Regions from separate parts of the Homo sapiens genome. Here region 1 is linked to region 2. Evidence: fine-mapped expression QTL. Tissue or cell type: putamen. Region 2 holds a variant in brackets; the other region holds the start of a gene. All regions are shown on one strand. Distances are between the middles of the regions. Region 1 holds the start of TOM1L1 (target of myb1 like 1 membrane trafficking protein). Region 2 overlaps TOM1L1 (target of myb1 like 1 membrane trafficking protein).

Region 1 (5,375 bases), 53 kb before region 2:
CTTCTTTCAAAATGTGAACTAGTGAAGGGCACCACCTACCATCTAGAGCTCTATCCAAGAGGGATGACATAGCACAGCCATTCAAGTCACAGGTTCTGGAATTAGACAGTCCTTCCCTAGCAATGTGACTATGTGAAAAATTATTGACTTATTTCCCCCCCCTTTTTTTCTTGAGATGGAGTCACTCTGTTGCCCAGGCTGGAGAGCAGTGGCGTGACCTCGTCTCACTGCAGTCTCCGCCTCTCGGGTTCAAGCGATTCTCCTGCCTCAGCCTCCCGTGTAGCTGGAATTACAGTCACCTGCCACCATGCCCAGCTAATTTTTGTATTTTTAGTAAAGACAGGGTTTCACCATGTTGGCCAGGCTGGTCTTGAACTCCTGACGTCAGGTGATATGCCTGCCTCGGCCTCCCAAAGTGCTAGGATTACAGGTGTGAGCCACCGCGCCCAGCCATTACTTTGGTTTTTCTAACATGAAAAATAAAGTAATAACCGTACTGGTCTCATAACGTTATTATGTGATTAAATGAGATAACGCATGTAATATGTTTAGAACATATCTGGCATATAGTTCTAGCACAAAAAATATTCGCTATTGAACAAGAACAGAAAAAAAGCAGGACCTTGTGCCAGCAAAGTATATGACTTCCCCTATTCCTGTATTCTTCAAGAGGTCTTGCACTGAATCAAGCAGATCCTTTAAAAAAGCAAGACATCAGGCTCAATAAACAGATTCACCTAGTGACAATAATATAGGCTTTGGAACCAGGCAGCCATGAGTCAAACTTTAGTGAAGCCATTTATAAACTTGATCTTTCTGAATCTCAGATTATATATTTGTAAAAATGAGGTTAATACTACCCACCTCTCAGGATTGTGAAGATTAAGATAGATTTCTAGTTGCAGACACTTAGCACATTTTACATAAATAAATGTTGACTAAGTGTTCTTGGAATTGAAATTGTGGTAAGATTTTACTCCTGGTGTCATTTTACCCCTGTGGGATTCTGCTCCTTCTCTGACCTCAACTTAGCTGTGAATTCTATTGTCCCCGCTGCTAGACTTTACTAACATTAACCACGTTGATTTTCATGCCTGGAGAGAAGAGGGATCATGCAGAACGGAACAGAGTACAGGAAGAGAAGGCTGCAACAACCACCACAACACCCTGGAGGGCACAGGGAGAGAGAAAAACTTCTGCCAGGCATTGCTGAGATAGAACACAGGTAGCACTCATCAACCTTGGTTCTGTTCACCCAAGCATCAAGTCCAGAAGACACTCCTTGCTACTGTTTCTCCTCTTTCTCGGTGCCTCAGTCCTGTCATGTAAGGAAATCAGACATAGGAGAAAAAAACAAAAAAAAAAAAAGAAGAAGAAGAAGACGAAAAGAAAAACCTCCCACATAGAAGTATGTTAAAAATCTATCTCTCTGGATGCTCGGTTCCTTTCTCGTTCTCATTAACTGATAGAAGGCCACTGACACCAACATTGGCCTAAGCTAAAATTGGTTTTCTTTTTCAGAGATTGTAGGTTGATTCTAGGTTGCAGAAAAGGCAAAATATTTTGCTAGAGGCATGGAATACAGATTAGGTTGGTGATGTCACAAAAGAGGTTTTCAACAGTGTCAGCAGAGGCTATAGTGATGAGTAAGGAAGTTGATAAACGGCAACATCTGAAATAGCTACTCGCCCTGAATAGGCAGGTGGAGAATATTAGTTACACGTGGGACAAATCCCATTATGAGACATATCATCACAACAAGAATATTTCATTCTAGATTTTAGAATCCCAGGTTTTGGCTCACTTTGGTCAAGAAAAATTATAAATAATTGAGTTACAGATAATTAAATGTTAGCCTCCTGGAGTGCATGGCAATTGGTTTTGACCTCTATATTAAAATTCACAAGACCACGGACATAAGTCAAAACAGGTCCCCTTCGTCTCCCTAGTCACCATCTCCAGGGCTAAAAAACAGACTTGAAATGGGTGGCAGTTAGACTACAGGAAACAGGATCTACAAGCACCAGGAGCTCATCTATGGCTATCTGACATCGCCTGGGGACACCTCACTCTCTGGCAGGCTCCTGCTGGCTGGAGATTGTTAACATCGCCAATCAGATGTTAATTGAATGCAAAGGAATAGGAAATAAATTCTGGTTCTGAAGGGGCAGCTGGAAAGGTGTTGGGCTTCTCAGATTCCAACCTACATTACAAAGCAGGCCTAAAGCCAAGCATACTCCTTGCCAGAAGAAACGGAAAGCCCCTCTCCCGTTTTTAGAATCAGGCTGGAAAACACGGCTCCCAGAAGGTGGGGTTAGAAAACAAGAGCTTGCGAGGCGGCGCCCTGTGGTCCCTCGAGGAAATAGTAGAGAGACAAAGAGGGCCTGCTCCTGGGAAGCCCTAAATTCGAAGCCAATCCTTCCTCCTAGACATGACCACAACTTTAAAGGGCAGGGCGCACACCTCCCCTCCCGGATCTCTAGGACAAAGGCAGGTCGAGGGTAAATATTTCTAGTTATTCAGTATATTCAGTGGCTAACTATTTATTTTGTGGGTACCAGACACCGACATAATCGGTTACGTCCTTCCCTTAATTCTCATAATTCTGAGGTTTGTGTTATTAACCCCCTATTATCTTTGGTCTACCCAGGGCAGCCAAAGAGGCGCAGAGAAGAATGACAAGGTGCCCAGCAAGCGGCAGGATCAAAGCCTGGGTCTCTAATTCCCAGGCTGGAGATTCTGGGCTGCCTGCTCCTCCTGCACGGGGCGAAAAGCCCACCTGGGATCCGAGCGGGCGGCCGCGCCACTCTCGCAGGCTCCATACACCCGCCACTACCCGCCTGTACCACCTGCAGCCGGCAGCGCAGCCTCCTCGCGGGTCCCGCAGGGCGCGCTGCAGGTGCGCTGGGCGTCCCGAAGCCCCGCCCTCGCGTCCCTGCCCCGCGCCCAGCTCCTCACGCTCGGTGCCCGCGCCCCGCAGCGGCAGCGCAGAACGCACCGCCTCTGCCAGAGCCCGGGAAGCGCTCGGGCGAAGAGGAGGAGCCAAGGGTACCGAGCGGGTGGAGTCGGGAGCCGGAGAGCGGTGGAGGCGGATTTCCTGGGCCCGGCCCTCTGGCGCTACCATGGCGTTTGGCAAGAGTCACCGGGATCCCTACGCGACCTCCGTGGGCCACCTCATAGGTAAGGAGGCGCGGGGAGAGACGCCCAGGCAGGCAGGGGACCGTGGGATCCTTTCCTGCTTGATCCATTCTCGGCCTGCAGAGGACGGAGTTAGTCCAACTTGAAAAAATTATTCCCCTCCCCCCGCAACTTTCCCAAGGCACCCGCATTCCACCCGGCCCCCTTTCGTCGTTTCCTTCTTGGCCAACTCACTGTAGAACCTCAGTCCTCAAAAATGTACCTTCCTTTCGATGCCGCCTGGGGAGTGGAACCAAACAGGTGAACCGCGGGAGTCAGGCATGGAGTGTTTGGGCCTCCACGAGGAGACACCAGAAACTTCTCGGTAGGGGAAGTTATTCCTAAAGGCACATTCTCCAGGGCACGGTATTGTTATGCCCGTTTTACAGATCAGAAGAGGAGGCTCTGGGAGACTAAGTGATGTGGCCTTACTGTGAGGGGCAGGTCTCCCCAAACCAGTTTTCTCTAGTGCCAAGCTTATACAACCTGGATTACTTTTCTGGGTAAACAAAGAGAATGAAAATGCTTGGCATTGGAGTGAAGAGGAGGGGAACATAGGAGCCATCTGGGGCCACGGAGGTCTCTCGCAGGCCACTAGGGACTACACCAGCATCCACCTAAATGATTTCTCTCTCCTCCGGATGTACCTTGCATGATGTATGTAGAAGCCAGTGATTGGACTCCTACCAGCACCAGCTCACTGCTCCTTCTTTTCCCTGATTCCTCCCTTGGGAATTGGGTGTGGCACGAGTGCATATTAATGCCAGGCAAAGTGTGATGATGTCAGGAACTTAGTGGGGTGATGAAATCGTGAGAACCTAGTAGTTGTAGTAAAGAGGCCCAGATTTGGAAAATTTAGATCACAGCTCTACTAACTGCTGTGACACCGAACACACCACTTAAACAGAACCTTAGTTTACACATCCTTATAAGATGGTCAGAGTAGCTACCATTGAGGAGATGCTTTCCCTTAATGGCTGTGCTTTTTTGGATATTAGAATGAACCCCAAGCAGAAATGGATTCAGACTGTGTCTTCATAGGCAAACGAAACTTCAGCAGTTCTTCTGCTTAATTTTTTAATTCTGTAAACATGGACTAACTGTCAGCTATGTGCCTGGACCTGGATCAGGCACTGGTGAGGCCAAGGTGAGACGTGGTCTCAAACCTGAGGGAACTCACTTTCTTGTAGAGAAGACGGGCACAGTTTTGTGTGGCACCTTTGCAATGCAAGAAAATGCAAAACACACAAAACTTAGGAGAAGGGAGAAATGAATTCTGCGTGGCTTTTGAAGGGTGAATAGGAGTTTTCTTTTCTAGGGAGGTAAGCTTTGTCCATTCGGTGCCAGATTCAAGTTTTTTGTTGTTGTTGTTTTGTTTTTGTTTTTGTTTTTGTTTTGAGACGGGGAGTGACACCCAGGCTGGAGTGCAGTAGCTCTCGGCACACTGCAACCTCCGCCTACCGGGTTCAAGCACTTCTCCTTCCTCAGCCTCCCGAGTAGCTGGGACTACAGGCACATGCCACCACGCCAGGCTAATTTTTGTATTTTTAGTAGAGATGGAGTTTCACCATGCTGGCCAGGCTGGTCTCGACCTCCTGACCTCAGGTGATCTACCCACCTCGGCCTCCCAAAGTGATTGGGATTACAGGCGGGAGCCACCGGGCCCCGCCTCAAGTGGTTCTTTTCCTGGATTGAAAGCAAGCTAAACTTTGGGGTTCCCCCAAGCAAGTCCTTATTCTTCCCCTTCTCTATCTTTTTTGTTTTTTTCTCCATTTCCCCCAGAACCCGGTGTTTTCATGCTTAGGGATCTTGTCCTTCTCTTAGGAAGATGTTAGCGCATTCATACTGAGTGTTCCATTACCCTTTCCAGATAACATCTTGTATTCTTAAAGCGGCTGTCTGGAGAGGGAAAGATGCCTGATTATCTAATCATAGGGTTCCAAGTGCAGAAGCATTCTGGTCAGCCTGGTGCAGCTGTGGTTAGTTTAGATGCTTATTATTATTAGTTCGGATAGTTATCCAGCGCCAGTTTGAAATAATTAAGGCTGAAAGTAAAAGTGTATGCAATGGAAGTTTTTACATAGTTGAGGTAAGCAGTGTCTTTGCAAGTATTGGTTGAAGTTATAATAATTGGTAAAATTAGAAGGAATCGTGAGATTAAGATGATAGGACAATAAACGTATTACTTTTATTTGGAG
Region 2 (5,375 bases):
TTAGTTTGCTGGAGCAGCTCACAGAACTCAGGGAAATACTTATATTTACTGGTTTATTATAAAGGACATTGCAAAGGATGCAGATGAAGAGATGCACAGGGCGAGGCATGCGGAAAAGGCCATGGAGTTTCCGTGCCCTCCCTGGAGTCCCACCCTCCAGGTACCTCCACGTGTTCAGCTATCCAGAAACTGACCTGACCCAACCCCAACCCAGTCCTCTAGGGTTTTTAATGGAAGCTTCTTGATGTCAGCATTCCTTCCCCCAGGGTATAGGGCAGGACCCTCTCTAGGGAGGCTCTTATGACCCACAGTGACAAAGGTGGGCGATTAGAGTGGTGCCTTGGGGCAGGTGAAAGGAGGACTAGAGAAGGTCGAGAGATTCTGCTTCCAGAGGCTGGCTCCTAAGGCCTGACACACCCAACATTATAACAAAAGACTGTAACAAGGGCTATGGGAGTTGTGAGCCAGGAACCTTAGACAAAAACCAGTATGTATCATAAGACCACAGTTGCCAACAGCTGAAAACTCGGATATTTGAAAATAAAAATTCTGGACTTCTAGATCATTTAGATACTCTGTCAACACGAAGCCTGAATTTTTACGTGCTAGCTATGGGCTGGGGTTGAGTAGTAGCTATCTCCTTTACACAGGTAGGCTCTGCAGCCCCTCAGGTCCTGTTACCACCCAAAAAACCCAGGGTTCATTCACCTGGATAGTAACAGATATCTGACTCTCCACAAGGACACAGGTTTTGATCAATAGGAATTTTATTACTTAGCACAAGTAAATTCTTTAGGGGCCAGGATCAGAAAGCGTTCTTCTGTAACTTCTTCATGTTGACCAGGGACACTGTATCCAGAGATGTTAGAGGAGTGAAAATCTCTAGGCACTAAAACTAAATATGTTTTAGGGTCTCCCAGGATAGGTTGCAAAGGCACCTACAGTTGAAATTTTTCTAATCTGGAAGATACAAATTTTACGAAGAGGTTAAAGATGCAGGGACCAAACAACAGTAGTAAGAGCAATAAAATTAGTGGCCTCATTAGGGGAAGAAACCAAGTAACACTTGGTATTGCTAATTTGAGAACTTCTCAAACAGAATTAGAAGTATGGCTATTAGGCCTGATGTGGTGGCTCACCCCTGTAATCCCAGCACTTTGCGAGGCCAAGGCGCGCAGATCACCCTGAATTCAAGATCAGCCTGGGCAACATGGTGAAACCCCGTCTCTACTAAAAATACAAAAATTAGGCAGGTGTGGTGGTGCGCACCTGTAGTCCCAGCTACTCAGGAAGGTGAGGCAGAAAAATCGCTAGAACCCAGGAGGTAGAGGTTGCAGTGAGCCCAGATCGTGCCCCACTGCATTCCAACCTGGGCAACAGAGCGAGACTGTCTCAAAAAAAAAAAAAAAAAAAAAATATGGCTGCTGATTAAAAGTGTGGAACCAAGAGGCTTGGGCATGGACCTTCCTAATGTTAACTTCCTATTTCCCCTGAGGTATTTATTCAGGTACAGCAAGAGGAATTAATAACTGCACACTCTCCTCCTCCCTGTTCTGCTAAGAGGCAGTCTAATGCTATACAATTATCTAGTACCGCATTAGCCAAGGAGTCATATGAGGCCCCAAGTCTGGAACTTCCCCAGGAACTAGGGCCAGCATGGCAGTGCCATGGGCTCAGAACACCTCTATTCTGTCCTGATTTAGAGAAATTGTGGCTCCAAACTTAGTCAGAAGGTCCCTTCCCAAAAGGAGAATGGGATGTTTGGGGAACAGAAGAAAGAATGAGTGAAAGTTTTAGATACTATTTCATGGACCAGAGGCTCCAAGAATCTTTTATTTCCTTTATGAGACACACCCCTTATATACATTTCTTCCTGGATAGGGTCCACTTTTAGTGATCAACACAGAAAACATGGCTACAGTGTTGATCAAAAACTCAGCTGGTGGCCGGGAGCAGTGGCTCATGCCTGTAATGCCAACACTTTGGGAGGCCAAGGCTGGAGGATCACTTGAGCCCAGGAGTTCAAGACCAGCCCTGACAGCATAACGAGACCTTGTCTCCACAAACAAA[C/CA]AAAAAAATCAGCCAGGTGTGCCTTAGTCCCAGCTACTTGAGAGGCTAAGGTGGGAGGACTGCTTGAGCCTGGGAGTTGGAGGCGGCAGTGCGCCATGATCACGGTGCTGCACTCCAGCCTGGGTAACACAGACCCTGTCTCAAACAAACGAAAAAAAATCCAACTGGTTGCCCCCCTTCTTCTGTGTAACCTGGGGCTCCTTGGGGGAGATGTGGATCTTGTTTTGAGGAGCCAGGCAGGGAGCCCCATGTCCCCATCCATCAGTTTCTTGTCCAGTTACAGGGAACAGGTACCTTGGGCTTGTCCTCCTCCTTCCCTCTCTGGGGATGATTTGGACATTCCCTTTCCTAGCATCCTTTCTGCTTCCAGTAAGCATATTGTTTGGGCCCCAGTGTAGGCAGGCCCTGAGTTCCATGGTGGGGGCCCTGGTCACTCACCCATGCCATCTTCTTCCTGGGCTTCCTGAAGTAGTCTGTAGGGCTGCCGCATCTTCTTGTCTTCCTTTTCATCAGATGCCACATCTCTTTACTATAGACCTTAAAGGAGATGTCTACCAGTTGGAAAGGGGGAGTATGTGGATTTATTGCCACTTTTTAGAGTTTTCTCTGAATATCTGGGGCTGAGAGATGAAGTGAGATTAAAGTACTACTCAGCTTTTGGGTCATCTGGGTCCCAAGGGGTGTAATTCTGGAGGCATTCTTATTATCAATTTAGGAATGCTGATGGATTTTCATTAGGGCCTTGTTCTATTTCTCTGAGATTTCCCCAATTGACCAGGGACTGGCTTGCTTCCCTCATACCTCTGAGAAGCATATTCCTATAATGATGAAGCCACTCTTGATTCTTGTTATCACTGGGGTCCCAGTTTGGGTTGGCTATTGGGACTGACACCTCAACGGGCCAGGTCACCAGGTTATCAGCACACATATTGTCTGCCTCCTCCTTAGTTTTGGCCATGGTGGCAGATTTATCTTCTGCTGTGAGCAGGGTTGCTGTTACGGTCTGCACACCTGGCCAGGTAGGGTTATGTGTGGAGAATATTCTCCATATGAGAGTTACGAACTCTCGTGGGCTCACCCATAAGCCCTTACTATGGGATTTCCAGTTATACAAGTCAACAGTTTTAAAAAACACATAGACCCGAGCAAAACCTCTTTCTCCAACAGGCATGCTCTGAGTGGCAACAGTCACCCTCCAGGGTTATATGCGTTCCCACTATGAGTGGTGCTCCCTGGCAAAGAAGAGTGCAACAGGGGCCTGCTATTGCCATAGCAGGAGCCACAGCTGGCTCTGCAGAGTTTGGAGGGCCTGGCAAATACAGAACGGGCCCTTGCTTTTCCCTGGAGGTGCAGAGGGTACCATTTCCAAGAAGGTGGACTATGCCCCTGTATTGGCCAAGGTTCCAGTCCCCGAGTAGAGTTAGAGGGCCTCACTTCTCTTGGAGGGGGTAGTAAAGGGACTCTTCTTACTTGTTCCCTTCCCTATAGGCCCCCACATGACTGATGCTTCCTCTCCAGAGGCTTCTAGAATTGGCAATATAGTTCCCTTTGGCCAATTTACATATTCTGCATTTCATCTGCAAGGCAGGGTTTTGATAGAGGGCCATAAAACATTGCATATAGGGCATTTCTTCCCATTTACCATGTTTCTTGCAAAAAAAGTCCAATTGGAGAGTTGCAGTAAGTGACCCATATTCAGACCATCTCTTCTGATCTAGGGAATACTGGAGCCAGGCTGTATTACAGTAATATATCATTTGCTTTTTGGTCATGGGTGGATATGCAGTTTCCATTGCCAGAGGAGGCACCCTAACAAGCTCTCCTTCCAAGACCTAGTTCACGACATTCTACGGTCTCTGCACACAGTCTGAGGGGCTTCCAAACTCTGGAGATTAATGATGACACAAATCCCACAACTCAGCTTGAATACTTCTGGTCCTCTTTGCTGGCCACCATGCAAAGCCATCCAGAGGTCCTGGGAAGCTGAGAGGATAACAGGGATTTCCTTTCCCTGGATCATGTTCGGTCCGGGCAGCCTCCCAGGAGATCTCATGGAGACAATGAAGTAGTTCTGGATCCAGCTCAGGTGGTGGGGAGGTAGGTAAATCAATCAAGTGAGTGAGGTGTTTCCTCAGAGAAAGCACACACACTGTTCATGTAACCTTTGTATCACTGCATTCTGGTTCCAGGGATCATGATCCCACCAAAACTGCCCCCTTTGAAACTTGGGTCTCCTCATCAAACTAACAGCAGTCCTTCTGTGACTGCTGCAAAACAAAGCCTGATATTTTAGGGGTTGCCACAGACTAAGGGTAGAAGAATCCAGACTTCATATTCATTCAGGCCACAGACAAGTAAGAATATTGAGCCCTACAGTTATACCACGTAGGGAACAAAGCCTGAAGACAAGCATCCTTGTCTTTTTGTTGGGGATTCCCCTTGTTAAAACGATGGCGATGTCTCTCAGTCTCCCAGACCTGAAAGAAGGAACTTCTTTTTCTCAACAATCCTGGATCCCTTGACCTAGGTCCTAATCCTGACAACCCAGAATCCTAATGATCAAAACCCAGACCACTCTTTTAGTAGTTCATGGAGCTGCTGCTTCAAAGCAGCACCGAGCAAAAGGTCTGGGCTCTAGGCAGCCGCTTCTACTCTCCCAGAGAGGTCTTGTGGTGCTGGTCAGTGGACTACACTAGACACCAGGTCAGGGGTCCCAAGGCCCTTCTCTAGTCTCCTTCTTGGCAACTGAGGTGAGTTGGCCCACGCATGCTTCCACATCCCACTGCTTTGCCTGCCAGGAGCCTATAAGGGAGGTCAAGTCAGGGCTCAACCCTGGGTCTCATCTGGGGTACCAGACTTGTTACCCCTAAAAAAACCTGAGATTCATTCATCTGGTAATAGACAACTCTCCATGAGAACACAGGTTATTATTATTTTTTCTTGACAGGGTCTCACTGTGTCACTCAAACTAGAATAAAGTGGCATGATCACGGCTTACTGCAACCTTGACTTCCCAGGTTGAAGCAGTCCTCCCTACTCAGCCTCATGAGTAGCTGAGACTATTGGGGTGTGCTACCATGCCTGGCTAATTTAATTTTTTGAGACAGAGTGTCACTCTGTCATTAGGCTGGAGTATAGTGGGGGTGATCTCGGCTCACTGCAACTTCTGCCTCCCAGGCTCAGGCAATTCTCATGCCTCAGCCTCCTGAGTAGCTGGGGACTACAAGCATGTGCCACCACGCCTGGCTAATTTTTTTGTATATTTAGTAGAGACAGGGTTTTGCCACGTTGCCCAGGCTGGTCTC

Evidence for each region. PIP is the estimated chance that this variant, and not a neighbour inherited with it, causes the effect.
Region 1: it holds the start of TOM1L1, and the variant in region 2 is the best candidate, but not a certain one, in a credible set for the expression of TOM1L1 in putamen (GTEx, PIP 0.66).

What each region holds. Positions count from the first base shown.
Region 1 is chr17:54,897,744-54,903,118 of GRCh38, forward strand. It overlaps TOM1L1 (target of myb1 like 1 membrane trafficking protein), which reads left to right and starts at 3,109. Exons shown (of 16, transcript NM_005486.3): 1 at 3,109-3,180. The coding sequence starts at 3,123. It overlaps LOC124904033 (a long non-coding RNA gene), which reads right to left and starts at 2,994. Exons shown (of 2, transcript XR_007065854.1): 1 at 865-2,994. RefSeq lists a silencer at 2,784-3,123 and enhancers at 3,204-3,313, 3,334-3,423.
Region 2 is chr17:54,951,153-54,956,527 of GRCh38, forward strand. The region is part of intron 14 of TOM1L1 (target of myb1 like 1 membrane trafficking protein); the gene reads left to right. It also overlaps a transcript of COX11 not described here. Among named protein-coding and RNA genes, the nearest start is that of COX11, 15 kb to the right of the region's middle. The variant C/CA (reference allele first, on the strand shown) is at 2,071.